Linked DNA regions of Homo sapiens. The protein of the gene in region 3 interacts with the protein of the main gene of each other region in a biochemical or structural test. Each region holds a gene or a part of one and is shown on either strand. Other genes may lie near its edges.

Evidence for each region.
Region 1: the proteins of VDAC1 (region 3) and BCL2L1 form a complex in vitro, tested with the Homo sapiens proteins (4 studies listed by BioGRID).
Region 2: the proteins of VDAC1 (region 3) and PLAT form a complex in vitro, tested with the Homo sapiens proteins (one study listed by BioGRID).

Annotation. Positions count from the first base shown.
Region 1 is NC_000020.11:31,663,942-31,670,875, reverse strand, and holds the end of BCL2L1 (bcl-2-like protein 1), read left to right. Parts: intron 1-3,728; exon of another isoform or gene 3,729-3,885; intron 3,886-4,789; coding exon 4,790-4,927; 3' UTR 4,928-6,418; downstream 6,419-6,934. UniProt on the Homo sapiens protein: Potent inhibitor of cell death. Inhibits activation of caspases. Appears to regulate cell death by blocking the voltage-dependent anion channel (VDAC) by binding to it and preventing the release of the caspase activator, CYC1, from the mitochondrial membrane.
Region 2 is NC_000008.11:42,204,550-42,212,536, reverse strand, and holds the start of PLAT (tissue-type plasminogen activator isoform 1 preproprotein), read left to right. Parts: upstream 1-4,971; 5' UTR 4,972-5,043; intron 5,044-7,987. UniProt on the Homo sapiens protein: Converts the abundant, but inactive, zymogen plasminogen to plasmin by hydrolyzing a single Arg-Val bond in plasminogen.
Region 3 is NC_000005.10:133,987,962-133,994,984, reverse strand, and holds part of VDAC1 (non-selective voltage-gated ion channel VDAC1), read left to right. Parts: intron 1-1,966; 5' UTR 1,967-1,972; coding exon 1,973-2,039; intron 2,040-2,629; coding exon 2,630-2,679; intron 2,680-3,830; coding exon 3,831-3,983; intron 3,984-4,077; coding exon 4,078-4,130; intron 4,131-5,741; coding exon of another isoform or gene 5,742-5,850; exon of another isoform or gene 5,851-7,023. UniProt on the Homo sapiens protein: Non-selective voltage-gated ion channel that mediates the transport of anions and cations through the mitochondrion outer membrane and plasma membrane.

The DNA of each region.
Region 1 (6,934 bases), on a different chromosome or scaffold from region 3:
AGAGCAGCCGCCTGCTGAGAAAATGGCTCTGTTTATTTCCAAGTGTGTCGTGTGAACCATGGGCTAAATATACCCACGCCACCGCCTCTCCAGCACCCGCCCTGGAACAGCACGCCCCATTTTGCTCATGCTGTCTCCGCAAAAGCAATCCTTAGAATCCACACCCCTTGGAAATACTACTCCCCTTCCCCAGGAAAAGAAGCTGAAATGGAAATGAAGGTTGTCATGACCAGGAACACATGAGTGGAAGCTGGGGCAGGTGAAATGAGAATGTTTCTATGGCACTGAAATGAGAATGTTCCCTCCACCCAGGAATGACTGTTTCTGGACAGTGAATGCTTTGTGCCCTTGTGGGGACAGCGCCTGTTTACTCCAACCCAGCCCCAGAGCTGAAAATTTCCTGTGGCTGCCAGCCGTCTACTTCAGGAAAGTTCCCATCAAGGGAGCCAGGCCTCTCCCATTTTGGCTGCAACCCCAGTGTCCCTGGTTTCTTGAGAGACATTTGGCCTCTTGGGATAACCAGGGCCTTCTCCTATGCTCTTCATAGTGTGGAACTCTCCCCCATCACAGATAAGCCTATTTTGTGACTCCACCTGGGTGTACTTGGGAGCAACAAAATCAAACCTCCTGTAAGAATATTTTTGTCTGCCAAGACCCGCAGAGGCTAGCTAGGATGGAGAGGGAGACAGGGAAGCATAGCCACGGCCCTAGTGCCCTCCTTTCCCCAGATCCTCCACCTCAACCCTGCTCCCACATTCCTTCTCCTGGAAATCCATCCTTTCAGCACTACTGACAGGACAGGTCCCTCCAGCCTCCAACTTCAGGGAAGTGTCCTGACATAGCAGCCCTCCCTTTGAAGCTAGGCAGTCTTGCAGTTTGATCCCGACTCTGCTATCTGTTTGCTGAGTGTTCCCTGCTTTAAATATCAGGCATCTTATTTGTGAAATGTGGCTCAAATCTACATCTCAGGATTCTGATGAAGATGAAATGGGATACCAATGCCTGACATGTAGTAGACATGCAATACATTTGTTAACTCATGTATTCTCATGTATTTACAGAGCAAGACACTGTTCTGAGCACTGGGTGTATAGGAACGAGACAGGACCTCTGCCCTCATCAAGACACATCTAGTATAGGCCGAGGGCAGTGGCTCACGCCTATAATCCCAGCACTTTGGGGCTGAAGAGGGCAGATCACTTGAGGTCAGGAGTTTGAGACCAGCCTGGTTAACATGGTGAAACCCCATCTCTACTAAAAATACAAAAATTAGCTAGGCGTGGTGGCAGGCGCTACTCGGGGGGCTGAGGCAGGAGAATGGCTTGAACCCGGGAGGCGGAGGTTGCAGTGAGCCAAGATTGCACCACTGCACTCCAGCCTAGGTGACAGAGCAAGTCTTCGTCTAAAAAAAAAAAAAGACACATCTAGTATGGAAGACACATCACAACAAAAACAAAGTACAGAATCTAGTTATGAGAAGTACAGCTTAATGGGGGAAAAATGTGGTGAGGTGGTGAGGCCGGGCATGGTGGCTCACGCCTGTAATCTCAGCACTTGGGAGGCTGAGGCAGAAGGATCCCTTGAGCCCAGGAGTTTGAGACCAGCCTAGGCAACAAAGTGAGACCCTGTCTCTACAAAAAATTTAGAAATATTAGCCAGGCATGGTGGTGTGTGCCTGTAGTGTGGCAGCTACTCAGGAGGCTGGGGCAGGAGGATCATCTGAGCCCAGGAGGTCAAGGCTGCAGTGAGCCATGATTGCGCCACTACAGTCTAACCTGAGTAACAGAGTGAGACACTGTCACAAAAATTTAAAAATTAAAAAATAAAGCACTGAGAAGAAAAGCTGGCATGGTGGTCATTCTGTGTAGTGTAGTTCCTGTAATCAGGAGGCTGAGGCAGGAAGATTGCTTGAGTCCAGGAGTTCAAAGTCAGTCTGGGCACATCTTTTAAAAACAAGAAAAAAAAAATGGTGGCTGGGCATGGTGGCTCATGCCTGTAATCCCAGCACTTTGGGAGGCCGAGGTGAGCAGATCACCTGAGGTCAGGAGTTTGAAACCAGCCTGACCCAACGTGGAGAAACCCCGTCTCTACTAAAAATACAAAATTAGCCAGGTGTGGTGGCACGCGCCTGTAATCCCAGCTACTTGGGAGGCTGAGGCAGGAGAATCGCTTGAACCTGGGAGGCGGAGGTTGCAGTGAGCTGAGATCGCGCCATTGTACTCCAGCCTGGGCAACAAGGGTAAAACTCTGTCTCCAAAAAAAAAAAAAAAAAGGCCAGATATGGTGGCTCGTGCCTGTAATCCCAGCACTTTGGGAGGCCGTGGGCGGATCACTTGAGGTCAGGAGTTTGAGACCAGCCTGGCCAATATGGCAAAACCTTATCTCTACTAAAAATATAAAAATTAGCTGGGCATGGTGGCACATGTCTGTAATCCCAGCTACTCAGGAGAATCGCTTGTACCCAGGAAGCAAAGGTTGCTGTGAGCCCAGTTTGTGCCACTGCACTCCAGCCTGGGGGACAGAATAAAACTGTGTCTCAAAAAAAAAAAAAACTGAGAAGAAAAATCAAGGAAGGTAAGGGGACAGGCAGAGAGAGACGGGGGTGGTGTACTGTTTTAGACAAGGCAGTCAGGGAAGGCCTCCCCTAGGAGGTGACATTTGAGGGGAGTCATGGTTGTGAAATGAGGGAGTGAGGCAGGCGACGACCTGGGGTCAGGTGCTCCAGGCAAGCAGGAACAGCAGACTCCTGCGGCAGGAGACGTTGGAGGAACAGCAAGGAGGCCAGTGGGACTGGAGTGAAGTTCAGGGGACAGGGGTGGGGAGGAGGCCAGAAAGTGTTGGAGCCAGATCCCACTAGACCTTGCTGGCCAGAGTAAGGAGTGGGGACTTTATTTCAGGTGTGATGGAAGCCCTGGGAAGGTTGAGAACTTGGAGTGACTGAATGGAGTGTGCTTCTGCAAGGGCTGAGATTCATGGGTCACTGCTCTCTACTGCCTTAATGTTGAGGATTCCTTCAGTCAAATTAGCAGCTCAGTGCACATGGCATTTTGCTAGGTACCAGGGATACAAAAATAAATGATGCTGCCCTTCTAAGTGCAGGAGAATGCTGCTGGAGGGCTTCCAGTGTTCTTAGAAAGCTCTGTGTGGAGCATGGACTGAGGGGGTTGTCAAGACTGGAAGTGGGCCACGGCAGGGGTCACAAGTGAGCAAATTGATAGGTGAGACCTGAGGCCAACTGGAGATGGCATGCCTGTCTTGAGGGAGCAGCCACTCGGCCATTTGGGACTGGTTGGAAATGTAGGCCCAGTGTGGCAGAGGTCTTGGTAGAGAGGCAAGAACCAGCCAGTAACTCATTCATTTTACACACACACACACACACACACACACACACGGTACTATGGTACTTCCTTTTTTTTTTTTGAACGGAGTCTCTGTCACCCAGACTGGAGTGCTGTGGTGCGATTTCTGCTCACTGCAACCTCCGTCTCCCGGGTTCAAACAATTCTCGTGCCTCAGCCTCCTGAGTAACTGGGATTACAGGTGCGTGCCACCACACCCGGCTAATTTTTGTATTTTTAGTAGAGACAGGGTTTCACCATGTTGGCCAGGCTGGTCTCGAACTCCTGACCTCAGGCAATCCACCCACCTCAGCCTCCCAAAGTGCTGGGATTATAGGCATGAGCCACCGCACCCAGCCTGGAACTTACTTCTTTCTTACATATTTCTAGGTGCCAGATGCCAGTTTTAGATTCTGGCTCCACCACTGACACAGCTGGGTGACCTTGATCCAGTCCCTGGACCCTCAGAGGCACAGCTTCTTGGCCTGTAAATGGGGAGAGACAGCCTGCATTGCAGAATTGTTGGGAGGATTAAAGGACAAATTGGGTACTACGCTTACTCATAAAAGTTATGTTCTAAGCGTCCTTCTCCCTGCCCCACAGGCTGCTGCACCCTGGGCTGGGTAATTTAGCCCACAGCTCCTCCTTCCCCCTGTCATGTGCTTCCCTTCTGACTTAGATTCAGGGCAGAGGGCTGTTGATCACAACCTCCTGGGCCCAGAGTCACACCCCCTGCAGTGGAGGATGTCCGGGACAAGGCCTCACAGACCCCGTGATGGAGGCCTGTCAGTCCTGCATCATTGTTACCCTCTCTCCTCTGCCCTGCTCTTCTTGTCACCAACCTGCCCACCAGAGGCTCCCTCCAGAGGGAGGAGCCTCTGGCTGAAGTCCCAGGACCCATTCTACCCCTGAATTGGCCTCAAATGACCCTGGGGATTTAGCCCTGGGCTTCCTTATCCCTCCCTCTGGTGCAGCAGTAGAAAATCTGAGGCCTAGTGGCTCCACACTCCACACTACCCTCAGACTCAACTCTAGGCTCCTTGCGGCTTCCAGGCCACGTATGGTCTGGCTCTTGCTCACCCCTGCACCATCATCTCCCCCATGCCCTCCTCTCCTGCACTCTGCTCCAGCCACCTGGCTTCCATCAGTTCCCTGACCCTGCCCATCTCGTTCCCACCTTGGATTCTGGAGTAAGTGCTACTTCTTGACTTACCTCAGACAGGGCACTTTCCTCCTCTCTACCTGTTTCTCAGCAGTAACATGGTTTGATTATCACCAATGGAGGGTCAAGAAAGAGGACCACCCTTAGCCCTTTACCTGGCCCAGAGTGGGCACAGATGGCTACAGTTTTTCACATCACCAAGGCCATAGCATGCAGATGGCCCCTTTCCCCACCCACCTACATCACTCTCTGAGGACTAAAACTGCACCTTCCTTCTCTCTCCCTGCAGGATACTTTTGTGGAACTCTATGGGAACAATGCAGCAGCCGAGAGCCGAAAGGGCCAGGAACGCTTCAACCGCTGGTTCCTGACGGGCATGACTGTGGCCGGCGTGGTTCTGCTGGGCTCACTCTTCAGTCGGAAATGACCAGACACTGACCATCCACTCTACCCTCCCACCCCCTTCTCTGCTCCACCACATCCTCCGTCCAGCCGCCATTGCCACCAGGAGAACCACTACATGCAGCCCATGCCCACCTGCCCATCACAGGGTTGGGCCCAGATCTGGTCCCTTGCAGCTAGTTTTCTAGAATTTATCACACTTCTGTGAGACCCCCACACCTCAGTTCCCTTGGCCTCAGAATTCACAAAATTTCCACAAAATCTGTCCAAAGGAGGCTGGCAGGTATGGAAGGGTTTGTGGCTGGGGGCAGGAGGGCCCTACCTGATTGGTGCAACCCTTACCCCTTAGCCTCCCTGAAAATGTTTTTCTGCCAGGGAGCTTGAAAGTTTTCAGAACCTCTTCCCCAGAAAGGAGACTAGATTGCCTTTGTTTTGATGTTTGTGGCCTCAGAATTGATCATTTTCCCCCCACTCTCCCCACACTAACCTGGGTTCCCTTTCCTTCCATCCCTACCCCCTAAGAGCCATTTAGGGGCCACTTTTGACTAGGGATTCAGGCTGCTTGGGATAAAGATGCAAGGACCAGGACTCCCTCCTCACCTCTGGACTGGCTAGAGTCCTCACTCCCAGTCCAAATGTCCTCCAGAAGCCTCTGGCTAGAGGCCAGCCCCACCCAGGAGGGAGGGGGCTATAGCTACAGGAAGCACCCCATGCCAAAGCTAGGGTGGCCCTTGCAGTTCAGCACCACCCTAGTCCCTTCCCCTCCCTGGCTCCCATGACCATACTGAGGGACCAACTGGGCCCAAGACAGATGCCCCAGAGCTGTTTATGGCCTCAGCTGCCTCACTTCCTACAAGAGCAGCCTGTGGCATCTTTGCCTTGGGCTGCTCCTCATGGTGGGTTCAGGGGACTCAGCCCTGAGGTGAAAGGGAGCTATCAGGAACAGCTATGGGAGCCCCAGGGTCTTCCCTACCTCAGGCAGGAAGGGCAGGAAGGAGAGCCTGCTGCATGGGGTGGGGTAGGGCTGACTAGAAGGGCCAGTCCTGCCTGGCCAGGCAGATCTGTGCCCCATGCCTGTCCAGCCTGGGCAGCCAGGCTGCCAAGGCCAGAGTGGCCTGGCCAGGAGCTCTTCAGGCCTCCCTCTCTCTTCTGCTCCACCCTTGGCCTGTCTCATCCCCAGGGGTCCCAGCCACCCCGGGCTCTCTGCTGTACATATTTGAGACTAGTTTTTATTCCTTGTGAAGATGATATACTATTTTTGTTAAGCGTGTCTGTATTTATGTGTGAGGAGCTGCTGGCTTGCAGTGCGCGTGCACGTGGAGAGCTGGTGCCCGGAGATTGGACGGCCTGATGCTCCCTCCCCTGCCCTGGTCCAGGGAAGCTGGCCGAGGGTCCTGGCTCCTGAGGGGCATCTGCCCCTCCCCCAACCCCCACCCCACACTTGTTCCAGCTCTTTGAAATAGTCTGTGTGAAGGTGAAAGTGCAGTTCAGTAATAAACTGTGTTTACTCAGTGAACAAAGAGCCTGGGCTCTTGTGTGCTCCGGGATGGGGAAAGGAGGGGCCGCTGGAGAGCTGGGTACTGGTCCTGGCTCTGCTGCCCTCAGGGGAGGGCCTTGGACAAGTCCTTCCTTCCTTCTGGGCCTGAATTTATCCACCTGTACGGTGACAGGGTTTTACTGGGTACATGCTGTGTGCTGGGCACTGGGGCTGCATGTGAACAGGACAGACACAGTCTCTGCCCTCAGGAGCTGACATTCTAGTGGGAGACACAGCCACTTGGCAAGTGTTTACTGAGCTCTGCTCTACACAGACATAGTCCTGGGCACTGGGGACTTCTTCAAACAAAACCTTTGCCTTTACAAGCATTCATTCTAGTGGAAGAGACAGACATAAGCACGGCTCTAGCTGCTGTAGGGTGTGGGGGAAAGGTGTGATGCCTTTCCTCACCCATCAGAAGGTTCTGTGACTGACATTCCTATAACAAAAGAAAAACAAAGTGGCAGTTCACACCCTGTAATCTCAATACTTTGC
Region 2 (7,987 bases), on a different chromosome or scaffold from region 3:
CTGAAACGCAAGGAACCTATAGCTTATCAAAGGTAAATGGACTGGACCAGAGTCGTGCAACTGACCTCAGAGGAGAGAAAGGAAACTTTCTGACTTCCAACCCCAGGCTCATTCCAGTAGCCTGCACATTCACCACGGGGGTGTATTTGAAGATTGATAGCTGGCGATGTGTTAGGAGGCTCAAAAGAGGTAGATTTAGGAGCAGAGAAAGAAAGTTCTGTGTCGGAGAATCAGCAAACCAACCTGAGAAACTCAACTCACTCCACAAAGGAATTGATTGAAAATTAGATGTGTTCAAAAATAACTTGAATAAACTCATGGATACTCCATCATAAGTTATTAAGGAAAATTCCTATTCTTCTGACACGCTTCCATGAACAACCAGGTCCTTCCAGTGCCAGAGAGAGAGTGTTGGGCTGGGCACACCCAGTGTGGAGCCAGTACATCTACTTTTATGAAAGTCATTTAGAAGCATCACTAAAGGAACTGAAAAACAATTGACCAATAATGACAGTACTCCAACACCTAGTTTTATCTTCTAATCTCTATCCATACATCTATGTAGTGTTTATATTATTATTATTTTTTGAGATGGAGTCTCACTCTTGTTGCACGATCTTGGCTCACTGCAACCTCCACCTCCCAGGTTCAAGTGATTCTCTTGCCTCAGCTTCCCGAGTAGCGGGGATTACAGGTGCCCGCCACCATGCCTGACTAATTTTTGTGTTTTTAGTAGAGATGGGGTTTCACCATGTTGGCCAGGCTGGTCTCGAACTCCTGATCTCAAGTGATTTGCCTGCCTCGGTCTCCCAAAGGGCTGGGATTATGGGTGTGAGACACCATGCCTGATCTACATTATTTATATCACAGCTCATGTACAAATTTATTTTCTTCTTCTTTTGGGCAAGGCAATTTTATGATTTATTTTGGTATGTCGGTATAATTATGTTATCAGTCATCTCAATGGCTACACAATATTGCAGTATTCTAACATGTCCTAGTCTACTAGGCCCCTATGTTTTGACATCTAAGTTATTTTCAGTATTTAGACAGTCAAAACAATGTTGAATACTTATCATTATCTTGTATGGGGATTTAAAAAATGCATGTCAGCAGGCTAAATATTCAAAAAATTACTGCTCCAAGAAAATAATCCAATTTTTAACTTAATATTTTGAAATAATTTCAAACTTACCAAAGAGTTGCAAGAATAAAGACCTCCTCCTACAGTTTGGTGAACAGCTCTTAACAAGAATAAGATTTGTAAGAGTCCTTCCCATGCCTTCAGCTTGTCCTGTTTTGATGTTTCTCATTGTTTGTGTGGAATTCACACAACTGGTGCTGTTACCACCATGGGCGTCTAGTCTGGATCAGTGGTCCTCAGTCTTTTTTGCACCAGGGACCAGTTTTGTAAAGATAGCTTTTCCACGGACAGAGGGAGGGGAGATAGTTTCGGGATGATTCAAGAGGATTACATTTATTGTGCACTTTATTTATATTACTATTACATTGTATTATATAATGAAATAATGGTATGACTCAGCATAATGTAGAATCAGTGGGAACCCTGAGCTTGTTTTCTTATAACTAGATGGTCCCATCTGGGGGTTATGGGAGACAGCGACAGATCATCAGGCATTAGATTCTTATAAGGAGTGCACAACCTCAATCCCTCGCATGTACAGTTCACAATAGGGTTTGCACTCCTATGAGAATCTAGTGCCACTGCTGATCCAACCGGAGGTGCAGCTCAGGCAGTAATGCGAGTGATGGGGAGCGGCTGTAAACACAGATGAAGCTTCACTGGCTCTCCAGCCACTCACCTCCTGCTGCGCAGCCTGGTTCCTAACAGGCCACGGACAGATACCAGCCCATGGCCCCAGGGCCGGGGATTCCCAGTCTAGATGGAGACCTAGACAAGGCGTGCGACAATAACACCGATTTTAGATCCATCATGACATTTACCCCATCCCCTGCAAAGCCAGATGGCTACCAAAATTAAATCTTAGTTTAGACACAGAATGTCCGTCTTCTGGTCCAAAACATCCTTGTCATAAGTTTCTTGGCTGGGCGCGGTGGCTCACACCTATAATCCCAGCACTTTGGGAGGCTGAGGCAGGTGGATCACGAGGTCGGGGGTTTGAGACCAGCCTGACCAACATGGTGAAACCCCGTCTCTACTAAAAATACAAAAAAATTAGCTGGGCGTGGTGGCGGGCACCTGTAATCTCAGCTACTCAGGAGGCTGAGGCAGGAGAATTGCTTGAACCTGGTGGAGGTTGCAGTGAGCCGAGATCACACCACTGCACTCTAGCCTGGGCGACAGAGCAAGACTCTGTCTCAAAAAAAAAAAAAAGAAAATAAAAAAAAAAAAAACAAGTTTCTTGCCCACTCTTCCTTTCTCTGAGTTTCCAGAGACATCACATCATTTCTTACCCAGCTGAGCAGAGTCCCAGCATGGCTCTCGTTCGAATACCCATCCTGCCACCTGCCCCAGTGAGAAGGGTTGGAGCAGCCCCTGTTCTCTGCCCCCGCCACCTCCATGACTCATGCATTCTGTGGGGGAGGCGCCCACTGCAGAAACAGCCAGGCTGGCTGGGAAAAGCCCTGCAGCAATTCCCCGTCCAGTTTCTCTGTGCCCACTTTGTCTCCGTGTTATCTAGGCCTGGATTTATTTCTCTTTTTTGAAAATGAAGGGCTTTGATGAAATGTTCACAGGATGTGAGGTCACCAAGATTTTTTTCCTTTTTTTCTGTTCTTTTCTTTTCCTCGAAGTGATCCCTTGACTAAAATCAAGGCTCCCATTGTCACCTTATCAGCCTGCCCATGCCTAATTCTGCATTCTCAGGCTTCCCCAGAATCTGTCCGAGGGAAACCAATCTCAATTCAGAAGGAACACAGAGGCCCCAGTTTCTAGGGCTGCAGGATATTGCTGGGTCTTAATCATTCGGGTATATTTCAGCAAAGCTCAGGGCCCCTGCTAATGATCTGCAAACCCTCTCCTCTCAGTCTCCCGTTGTTTAGCCCCTATTTATAAGTGAGTGCATGTGGTTGTTCACTTTCTGTTTCTGAGTTATTTCAGTTAGGATAATGGTCTCCAGTTTCATCCATGTTGCTCCAAAAGACAGACTTCATTGTTTTTTACGGCTTTGTCGTATTCCTCGGTGTATATGTGCATTTTCTTTATCCAGTCCTCCATTGATGGACACTTAGGTTAATTCTGTGCCTTTGCTATTGTGAATTGTGCTGTTGTGAATTGTGTGTGATAAACGTGTGAGTGCAGGTGTCTTTTTGATGTAATGATTTCTTTTTCTTTGAATAGATACTCAGTAGTGGGATTGCCGGGTCAAATGGATGTTCTATTTTTAGTTTGGGAAATCTCCATATTGTTTTCCATAGAGGTTCAGGATCCAGGATTTAAGTGCAACCATTCAGTGGAAAACCATCCTCTCAAGAGTTCAAATGAGAGTCCTCATGACCAGCACTCCCTGCTGAACGGCAATGCCCCACCCCCCAAAAAAGCCTCCATCCTCACCATCTTAGACCACATTGCAGGAAAGCAGCCCCATGCCCACCAGACAGGCCCACAGCTGCTGCTGCTCATGGGAGGTCTACCTCCCGTGCTCAGCAGGCAACCCACCCCAGTGCCCCTTTTCTACAATGACCATCAGCAGGGCTGCAGCTTCATAAAAATGTGAAAAACAGTTTGAAAGCAATGTGAAAAGCAGTTAGGTGCCTTTCAACTTCAAACTCAGCACTCATGGTTTGACAAATATGAGTATATTTAGGATCAGAATGTATGAAATCTGGCCTCTCCTGAATAGTCGGTCATCCCACAATTTCCTCTGCCAAACTTCTCTTCCCTCCCTGCGTTCTTTCTTTCACCTCTCTCTCATTTTTACAAGGTCTGGTCTCAGCCAGACATGAACCAATGATGATAGATGCTCCTGCTGAGCCCTGTGATGTGCCAGGGCCCTGACATGCGTGGCTTCTCTCTGATCCTCACGTGACCTGCAGATGCAAAAGCCAGAGCTCAGCATAGTTGAAAATCTTGATTGAGGTCATATCCCAGTTACTGGCACAGCCGGATTTAAACCTAAGACTTTCCCCTACACGACAGGGCTTTTATTTCTCAGTCATCTGAAAAGGTGTCAGCAAGGGAAATGGCTTGTCTATTTCCAGGGGCATTTTACAAGCAAATACTGAAAGGCTTCGGTGGGCTTAAGGGCTGATGGCTTTGATCGAATTTCAGGCATGTTGGCCCCAAGGCCCTGTGTATATTCCCTGGGCCCACTCAAGGGGATGCTGGAGCCGGAAAGTCCCCGGAGGCCACCTACTGCAGCCCTGCACTTTACAAAGAAGAGAAAGATTCTCCCTAAAATTACAGAACAGGGCCAAAGATGCCTACCGGAGCAAACCCCCATGGGGGCACCTCCTACCGCAGGTGAGCCCAAGGCTGGTCCTGCCTTCTCAGTGGCTACCCCCCTGAGCTCCCGCCACCACACAAAGTGTTCCAATCCTTGTGCATCCTCCAGTCCTTTTAACCTCTCATGTCCTGAGAGGCCAGAGCTACAGCCACAGATTCCAGAAGACACCCCACTCCCAGCCCCAACCTGCTGCCTTTAGAATTATAAACACTTCTTGTCATCACAGGGTCCTGAAAGTCCCTTTTAAGCCTGGGACACTAGGACTCTAAAGGAAGATGATTCTTAAGGTCCCATCCCACTTCCAAATTCCTGCGATTCAATGACATCACGGCTGTGAATAATCAGCCTGGCCCGAAGCCAGGATGGGCTGTGCTGCTTCCACCGTGAACTTCCTCCCCCTGCTTTATAAAAACAGGCCTGCCTCAGCTCCCTCATGGCCCTGTCCACTGAGCATCCTCCCGCCACACAGAAACCCGCCCAGCCGGGGCCACCGACCCCACCCCCTGCCTGGAAACTTAAAGGAGGCCGGAGCTGTGGGGAGCTCAGAGCTGAGATCCTACAGGAGTCCAGGGCTGGAGAGAAAACCTCTGCGAGGAAAGGGAAGGAGCAAGCCGTGGTAGGTCGGGTTTCTGTACCTTGGGGTCTGTCTCCTCTTCTTTCTCTTAAAAGTCTTTCCAGCAAGCTGAGCCAGTGAAGGAATGCTTTAACCAAGGGACCAACTTTGTAATTCAGGCAACTAGAGGATCCGCTAGAATCCACTCCAGAGGGGAGATGTCTGTTTGCATTTGCATGTGATTGGGATAGGCTGGAGTGTTTTGGAGGGGAGAGGCAGTCGGGGAAAGGGAGACTAGGGAGGTTGCATTCATTGGAGAAGCCTCTGCTGACAGAGTAAAGGGGAAAGTGAAAAGAACGATACAGAAAAGCCCCAAATAGCCTATGGGAGTACCTCAAGACGAGCAAGCAATAAAAGCAAAATCGGCTGCCTTGGGACACGTGCCTGTGACAGCTGGGAGGGCCCGCTGGGTCCCCTAGTTTCCTCCCTCCCCCGATGAACCCCCAGAAAGGAACTGAGGCTGTGGATGGGGCAGAGGGGGACTTACTTCCAGAGCACTATTTGCTAGGTGCTGGGAGAGAGAAGCAGGTGGCTTTCACACCCCACATTACCCCGTGGGATAGAGAAATGCCTCTGATCTCCCTAGGTGCCACCCCTACAAGTCTCCACAGGTCAGTTTGGCCCTCTGGCTTTTTGCCCAGGGTGCATCAGTCAAGTGTGCAGTCCTCCTTAAAGGACATTTTAATTACAGGGGAAAAAACTGACATTAATGTCTTTTATTCCTAAAGCACTCTGCAGGAAGCATGTGGGGTTCTCCAGATTTTCACTGTTATTATCTTTATTTTCTTAACCTCACAGGGAGGGAGAGAGGAAGGGAGGGAGGGAAGACGAAAACACGCCGAGGTCCCAGGTAACTAATGACAACTCAAGCTCAAAGAAGTGTGGTAACAAGGATGTGTTTGGTGGCCAATTGGGAATAATATGGTGGTCTCCTGTAGCTGCTTGATGACAGAAAAAATGTCGTGTGTGTGTGTATGCGTGTGCATTGCAGTCCCGGGAAGGGGTCTTGCAAATACCATTGTCAGGTGGAGTCCCCTCAAAGGTGACTTCCTAGCAGTACTTGCTGTGGCAAGAACGCTCATTCTGGGATCTAGACTCAATCCATGACGGTCAGCATGAGCTGCTGGGTGCGTGCTTCCTGTGCAGGCAGAGTCGGACTCCAGCACTGGCAGGGACACTGTGAGTATTGAGATATGAATAGCTCCATCCTGCCCACCCATTTATTCCACCTAAAATGTTCTCAAAGATGCAAGCCTCCAAGCTCTGGATCAAATGATAAAGCCCCAGATCAAAATCTCAGGAGCAAATGAAAGCTGCCCTTGTCTCCAAAATGCTCCTTCTCTGCCCGACTCCCCAAGACCAGCTTGGTTTATTTCACAATGACTCGCGTCGGATTCTCCCAGTGTCTGCGGCTCCCCCTGCTTCATCACAGGCCTGGGACAGTCCAGGCAGCCAGGGAATAGCTGGGAATAGCAGTTCCCCTTTGTTGGTTTTTGAGTTCACTGAGGCTTTGATTTCCCCCAGGGCCTGACGTTGCTGAGCAGAGCCAGCGGCCAGTAGATTTCAAAGGATTCCAAAAAACAGTCAGGCACTCCTTTGTGAACCCAAAAGTATCTGAGACAGGTCTGTCAATTTAGAAAGTTTATTTTGCCAATGTTAAGAACACACATGTGACACGGCCTCTGGAGATCCTGAGGACATATGTCCAAGGTGGCCAAGGTATGGCTTGGTTTCATACATTTCAGGGAGACATGAGACATTAATCAATGTATGTAAGATGTGCACCGGTTCGGTCTGGAAAGGCAGGACAACTCGAAGTAGGGGCTTCCAGGTCATAGGTAGATAAGAGAAGGCTTCATTCTTCTGAGTCTTTGTCAGCCTTTCACTGAATACACAATTTACATATGAGAGGGGGGCAGAGGAAGAGTCACTTATGCCTTAGTTGGCTCAGTGAATCTACTTTTTTTTTTGAGACGGAGTTTCACTCTTTTTGCCCAGGCTAGAGTGCAATGGCATGATCCCGGCTACTGCAACCTCCACCTCCCAGGTTCAAGTGATTCTCCTGCCTCAGCCTTCTGAGTAACTGGGATTACAGGCGCCTGCCACCACACCTGGTTAATTTTTGTATTTTTAGTAGAGACAGGGTTTCACCATGTTGGCCAGACTGGTCTTGAACTCGTGACCTCAGGTGATCCACCCACCTCGGCCCCCCGAAGTGCTGGGATTACAGGCATGAGCCAACATGCCTGGCCTGAATCTTCATTTTTACAAAAACAATAGGGCAGAGGAAGCAATCAGATATGCGTTTGTCTCAGGTGAGCAGAGGGATGACTTTGAGTTCTGTCCTTTGTCCTGTACCCATTTGCATTGCCAAGGTGAAGTTCAGCAGAACTGTTTTAGGGTAAAGATCTTGAAGTCCACAAGGAGTTTCCTTGTGGGTAAATTGTGAGAGAGGTATGTAGCCTTTTATCTTTGTAGCCGTCTTATGTAGGAATAAAATGGGAGGCAGGTTTGCCTCATGCAGTTCCCAGCTTGGCTTTTCCCTTTGGCTTAGTGATTTGGGGGTCTTGAGATTTATTTTCCTTTCATACCTTGGTAGTGTCACTTGAAGCCACCACGCCCGGCTAATTTTTATATTTTTAGTAGAGACAGGGTTTCACCATGTTGATCAGGCTGGTCTCGAACTCCTGACCTCGTGATCTGCCCTCCTCCTCCAAAGTGCTGGGATTACAGGCATGAGCCACCATGCCCGGCCAATTTTTCTTTTCTTTTTTTTTTTTTTTAAGATGGAGTCTCGCTTTTTCACCAGGCTGGGGTGCAGTGGCACAATCTTGGCTCACTGCAACCTCCACCTCCCAGGTTCAAGCGATTTTCCTGCCTCAGCCTCCCAAATAGCTTGGATTACAGGCGCCCGCCACCACACCCAGCTAAGTTTTCACCATGTTGG
Region 3 (7,023 bases):
GAAGGCTGCTGTGTCTGGGAGGCGTCTCTTCTGTGGGGTCAGGGGAGAGTCGTGGGGAAGGCTCTGGCTCCTAAGGTCCAGGGAGGTCTTAGGTGACCCACAGATATTACCACTGGACTGCTTCTCCTTCTGCTTCCCCAGCCCCCACCCCGGCTGAGTTTGTGGCCCCCCTGGGAGGCATAGCACTGAAGAGGGGTACTTGGTTCACTGATGGTTTGTTAACCCTGTCGGGTGGAGAATGTTCTGGGCCCGTTACTGTTATGTTCTGTGTCTGCCTGGGGTTACATTGCCTCAGCTTTCAATCCAGAGTTGTTCTCCTAGGAAGGTGTCAGGTAAAGGGTATTTCTTGAGGTTCTGGTGGGTGGTTTCCTGGTCTATCCCGGGGGGATGCACCTACAGGGTTAGTTTGGGAGGGAGGAACAAGTGGGGAGAGGGGAGCCCCCAGACTGGAAAGAGCCAGTGGCGGGCAGTGTAAAATGGATCTTCCCCCCTCATCTCTCTACCCTGATACTAATGTGGGCTGACCTGTCCATGGTTTCAGCCTGATCATGTGCAAGAAATAACACAGCAGCGACAAAAATAGGACAGAGTAAACAGCTCGCTGCTCTTCTGTCTGTGCTCTGACACAAAAGTGAGCTGGGATAAAATTAACAAAGCATCTGGAAAAAGTAAAGTAGGACCTGGATCACAACTTCACAATTTAAAATTGTAGAAGTTTATACTGTTTCTTTTACAACATACTCAGTGAGTCTGTGGCCTCCTGCAATGCCTTTGAAGTTAAAGCTTTGGCCAAGAATGCAACTTCCATTGATGATATGGAAGCATATCATGTCATATGACATGCCAGGAGCATGTCATATATGTGTTTATTTGTGTGAATATATATACATGTAACTTCAGATGGTATATATGCAGATGAATTTTGATAATTTAGGTATACTGTATTTTAAAACGAATGGAATGGTCCTTCTGGTTGAGACTAATGATTCTGGGGATGGAGAAGGTGCAGGAGATGAGGCTTTCTCATGCATGACCCCCTCTCCTCCTGGGCAGAGCACACCATGTACAGTCCCAGATTAGGATATTAATCCTGTGTACACAGCATATACAGCATGCCAAAGCAAAGCCTTCCAGGAATGCAGTGTGGTCCTTAGGGCAAAGACTATTTGAGTTACTCTCCTTCCTTGAACACCGAGGTGCTTAATAAATGTTTGTTGATTGACTTAGTGATATGCAGCAATCCCAAGTAGTCCTTTGATGGTTGGTTTTAAAAATAAAGTTACACTGGAGCTCAATAAATATTTGTTTAATGTATTTGGAGGATGTATTTGGGTTTTTTCCATGTGAAGAGCTGCCAAACTGGTTTGGTTTTACTGTATTCTCTATGAGAAATATGAAGTGGGTTCCCATAAAGTCCAAAAGTTTTGTGAAAAGTTGGGCCCATCCTGGCATATAGTAGGTACTCCATAAATATTTGTTGAATGAATGAAATCAGAGCCACATGGAAAATGATGTTCCCATGAAAAGCTCTGATTTCTATTCGGTACATTTAATGTCCTAGTAGCTGACATTTTGTAAGATGATATGTTTTATTGGCAACAGTCCTACAATTCAGTAAAGTCACTGGCTCATGGGAATGTGTCTTTGACAGTTTATTCATTAAGCAAATATTTCCTGACTCCTACTCTGTTCTGGGCCTGGGCTCAGTCCTGGGGATGCTGAGGAGGAGAGGTCTAAATTGTTGATCATCTGTCAACAAAGACTCATTGAGTGTCTCAAGCTCTGGCCACAAAATGAAGGACAAGACAGCAAGGGCTTCTTGGCCCATCTGGGAGGATAAGCTACCTGGTAGTCTTAGTGCTAGGTGATTTTTATTGGTTGCTAATTACATCTAATAATTGTTATTGATGGAAAGCTAATTTCCCTAATTATCAATGCATTTATTCTGGTGATTCTTTTATCATAGCAGAAGATGGCTGTGCCACCCACGTATGCCGATCTTGGCAAATCTGCCAGGGATGTCTTCACCAAGGGCTATGGTGAGTGTTGCAGAGAGGGGGTGCCTTTCAGCTCACAGACTGAGTTGGCATGTTTGAGACTTTACCGATAACTGTTTAGGAGACCTGGGTAGGTCAGCTGTTCTGAACTTTCACGTGAGGGAAAAAAGAAGCTTTCATTTGTGTGGCAATTGTAGCAACTTTGGTTGTGCACCCAGTTGGACAGGCTCCTGCATTGGTGCTGTCAAGTGGGTATTCTTGTTTTCTTTTCCAAGTGTGGAGCAGCCCTGTGGAAGCTGCTGCAGTGGAGCGCGGCTTCTATATTTAGCCTGTGCTTAGGCACATGCCCACGAGGCCCAGTAACTGTGTCTTTGCCAGCTGTCAGGTGTCTTCTTATCAGACCCTGCTGGGAGTGCAGGTGGGACCCAGGTGGGGGTGCCCATTCTGTCTGCTGCTGTTCCATGGCAGCTGAGAGCTCCCCCCACGAGCAGCAGCAGAGACTGGGTGCCCTCAGCCCCTGTGGCAGGAGTGTGCTTCTTTTTAAAAAAGCATCCTGAAGCAACCATGAGGGAGGCAGAGGTGCTGTTCTCTAGTTATTTAACCTATTGACAGTTGTCTTCTTCTTTCTTTAGGATTTGGCTTAATAAAGCTTGATTTGAAAACAAAATCTGAGAATGGATTGGTAAGTTGTCCAACCCACATGGAACATGAGTATTTATTTATTTTTATTTTATTTTATTTATTTATTTTTGAGATGGAGTTTTGCTCTTGTCGCCCAGGCTGGAGTACAATGGCGTGATCTCAGCTCACCACAACCTCCACTTCTTGGGTTCAAGCGATTCTCCTACCTCAGCCTACCGAGTAGCTGGGATTACAGGCACCCGCCACCATGCTCGGCTAATTTTGTATTTTTAATAGAGACGGGGTTTTTCCATGTTGGTCAGGCTGGTCTTGAACTCCCGACTTCAGGTGATCCGCCCACCTTGGCCTCCCAAAGTGCTGGAATTATAGGCATGAGCCACTGCGCCTGGCTTATTTTTATTTTTAAAAAAGATTTTAGATTCAGGGTGTACATGTGCAGGTTTGTTACATGGATGTATTGTGTAATGGTGAGGTTTGGGCTTCTAGTGTACCCATTACCCAAATAGTGACCATTGTATGGAACGTGGGAATTTGTTGTAGATCAACAAATAACTGTCGTGACCTGGCCCGCAAAGCCAAAAGAAGGTACTTTTTTTTTTTTATTCTGGCAGTTTTTGTGGTTTTCACATTCATTCCATTTTCTGCATGATGGGTGGTCCAGGGGAACCATGCCAGTAGGCCCCCAGTTCAGCAGCGGGTAATAGAGGAGAATGGGTCAGGTCTCAGTTTTAGTTTTCCTTGTGCTTCTTATTTTCAAATTCACCTGCATTCAACCACATAAGTGTTTTTAAAGTAATCTTAGTAGTCCCTTTGAAATTATGTGTGCAGTAATTGTTGGAAGAAAGAAGTTTTGGGTTTGAATTACCGCTGTGTCAGCTTTAGCTCAGTGCTTTTTCTCTGTACTGCCCTGGAGCCAGGATGGAAGGGAGATGCTTTCCTGTCCAGACTGAAGAGTTACAGGGAGGAAGGAAGCTGTCTGCTGACAACAAATTCCCCATAAGATTTCTTTACATAGCAGGCTCCTTTACTCCCATCTGTACTTTAAATATCTATTTGAATTGTAGAGTTAGCCTTGGCCCCCCCACATTCAGGGTCTTGCCTCTTGCAGAAAGGCAAGTATAGTGTTTAGGAGTGAAGTGAAGCCAAGTGAGTGCTATGGTGCAGGCTGTGACTCTTCTCTCTCCTTTGAAGGAATTTACAAGCTCAGGCTCAGCCAACACTGAGACCACCAAAGTGACGGGCAGTCTGGAAACCAAGTACAGATGGACTGAGTACGGCCTGACGTTTACAGAGAAATGGAATACCGACAATACACTAGGCACCGAGATTACTGTGGAAGATCAGGTAATGGCTGCTGTGAAAAGATGTGGATTTATTAATTCGCATCTGCCAGCCTGCCTTGTGACTAAATCTAGTGGCAAATTTCTTTTCTGTTCAGCTTGCACGTGGACTGAAGCTGACCTTCGATTCATCCTTCTCACCTAACACTGGGTAAGAGTTTCATCTGTTTTCTCCACAAGGATGTTCTCTGATGTTGCAGGTGGTGGAAGCCCTTTGTGACAAAATGTTTTGGGGGCTGACAGCACCTAAAATATGGTCTCCGAGACCTGGCGATTTAAGTCCTCTGGTTTTGATTTGGTCCCAGGGGTCGTATCCACATCTATGCACTAACAGACTATGCTATAATGAGCACTTCCTAATTCAGGACTGGTGTTTACCCAACAAACGATTTCTAAGTGCCACCTGTGCTTGGCCCTGTGCCCATCTGGAGATCTAAGGGTGCCCAGGCCATGATTGTTACCCGCCAAGGAGCTCACTTTCTAATAGAGGATTCAGACCAGTGTTTAGCCGTGTTTTGTAATAAGATTCTGCATTTTGTTAGTGTTCTCCTAGTTTCTGCCATGGAGGTTGCAGGATTTCTGTTCAGTAATAGCCATTTCATGTGAGTTAGGCTGCTGGTGATGTAAGTGGCTATGACCAAACGGGAGTGGGTGACATTTGGAAGCAGGGCCTAACTGGTCACTGTTGCCAGCCTCATTTCTTCAGGCATGGAAGTCCTTCTCCCAGCTTCCTGCTGCTTAGGGACACTGAGACCCTGTGGGTGTAACTGCAAGGTGGCTCCTGAGGCTGCACTTTCCCCAGGCCTTCTGGCCACAGATGTAATAGGCTTGTTAGTTCTTGACCATCACTTGGCATGATAGCATGGTAGTCTGCCTCAATTCCTGGGTGCTTTTCAAAGTGCCTAGAAGGAATTATTCCCTTTTAGAATACACCCTTGTTTTTTTCCACTCATATTGGTGGGTCTTCCAAACCTGGGGAAGATGTTTTATATAGTGATGTTAGGGTCAAGGGCATGTACTGAATTTCAGTTTTTAAAAATTGTGGGCCGGGCGTGGTGGCTCACGCCTGTAATCCCAACACTTTGGGAGGCTGAGGCAGGCAAATCACCTGAGGTCGGAAGTTTGAGACCAGCCTGACCAACGTGGAGAAACCCTGTCTCTACTAAACATAAAAATTAGCTGCGCCTGGTGGGCGCATGCCTGTAATCCCAGCTACTTGGGAGGCTGAGGCAGGAGAATCGCTTGAACCTGGGAGGCAGAGGTTGTGGTGAGCCAAGGTGGTGCCATTGCACTGCACCCTGGGCAAGAAGAGCGAAACTCCATCTCAAAAGAAAAAAAAAAAAAAGAGTCGGATGCAGTGACTCATGCCTGTGATCCCAGCACTTTGGGAGGCTGAGGTGGGTGGATTGCTTGAGGTCAGGAGTTTGAGACCAGCCTGGGCAACATGGCAAAACCCCATCTCTAATAAAAATACAAAAATTAGCCAGGCATGATGGTGCGTGCCTGTAGTCCCAGATACTTGGGATGCTGAGGCATGAGAATCGCTTGAACCCAGGAGACAGAGGTTGCAGTGAGCTGAGATCGCACCACTGCACTCCAGCCTGGGCTACAGAGAGAGACTCTGTCTCCAAAAAAAAAAAAAAATTGTGGTAAGATATACATATAAAACTTAACATCTTTAAGTGTGTAGTTAAATGGCACTATGAATTTTTCAGTTTTGCCATTCATTTTTTTTCTTTCTTCCTTTTTTCCTTTCCAACAGATATTTATTAGAGGGAGGATCTACCAAGTGCAGACCTGTGCTGGGTGTGCAGTGCACACAAGTGACTGGGCACACATGGTTCCTATCCTCTGGAGATGTCGTCTTATAGCTTGGCTATAGATGATCTGAAGAGACCATTGTTACGGGGCTGATTTACTCTCATTCCTCTTCGCTGCTGTAGTTTCTCCTGCAAGAGCACTGCCTTTTTGCAGTGCTGTGCACTCTCCCCCCAGGAACTCTGCCATGGTATCAGGGAGCGGTTATCTGGAAAGATCCTGGGATAGGATGAGAGGCTGGAGGATGTGCCCACATGCTTGAATTTGCTGCCTGGGACTTTGCCTGCTGCCCTGGGATAGCACACTTTGGAATTTGTAGGTGATTTCCTTCCCATGACCTTAGGGAGCTTTGCAGAGGTCTCCAGGCCATGCAGTATAAAACACAAAGGAAAGTTTTTTGGTTTTTTTTTTTTTTGGGTTGAGGGGGACGGAGTCTTGCTCTGTCGCCCAGGCTGGAGTGCAGTGGTGTGATCTCAGCTCACTGCAACCTCCTCCTCCCGGGTTCAAGTGATCCTTTTGCCTCAGCCTCCCAAGTAGCTGGGACTACAGACACGGGCCACCATGCCTGGCTAATTTTTGTATTTTTAGTGGAGACGGGGGTTTCACCGTATTGGCCAGGCTGGTCTTGAACTTCTGACCTCGTGATCCACCTGCCTCGGCCTCCCAAAGTGCTGGGCAGATTCATGTGTTTCTCCTGCCTCAGCCTCCCGAGTAGCCGGGATTACAGGAATGCACCACCACACCCAGCTAATTTTGTATTTTTAATAGAGACAGGGTCTCTCCATGTTGGTCAGGCTGGTCTTGAACTCCTGACCTTGGGTGATCTGCCCACCTCAGCCTCCCAAAGTGCCGGGTTTACAGGCGTGAGCCACTGCACCTGCCCCCCTTTTTTTTTTAATTTACTTTTTATTTCAAAATAATTTTATACTTAGAAAAAAATGTGGCAAAAATAGTATGCAGAGTTCTCCTGTGTTCTTCACCCAGCTCCTAATGTTAATGGTTTACGTAACTATAATGATCAGAATCAGCAAGTTAATGTTGATATCATATAGTTAATTAATCTGTTGTCACAATGACGTCTTTTTTCTGATCTGTGATCCAGTTCAGGTTCCTAAATTGCATCTAATTGTTAAGTCTTCTCTAATCTGGAATATTTTCTGACTCTGACACTTTTGAAAAAGAGTGGCCAATTATTTTGTTAAGATGTCCCTCAGTTTGGATTTGTC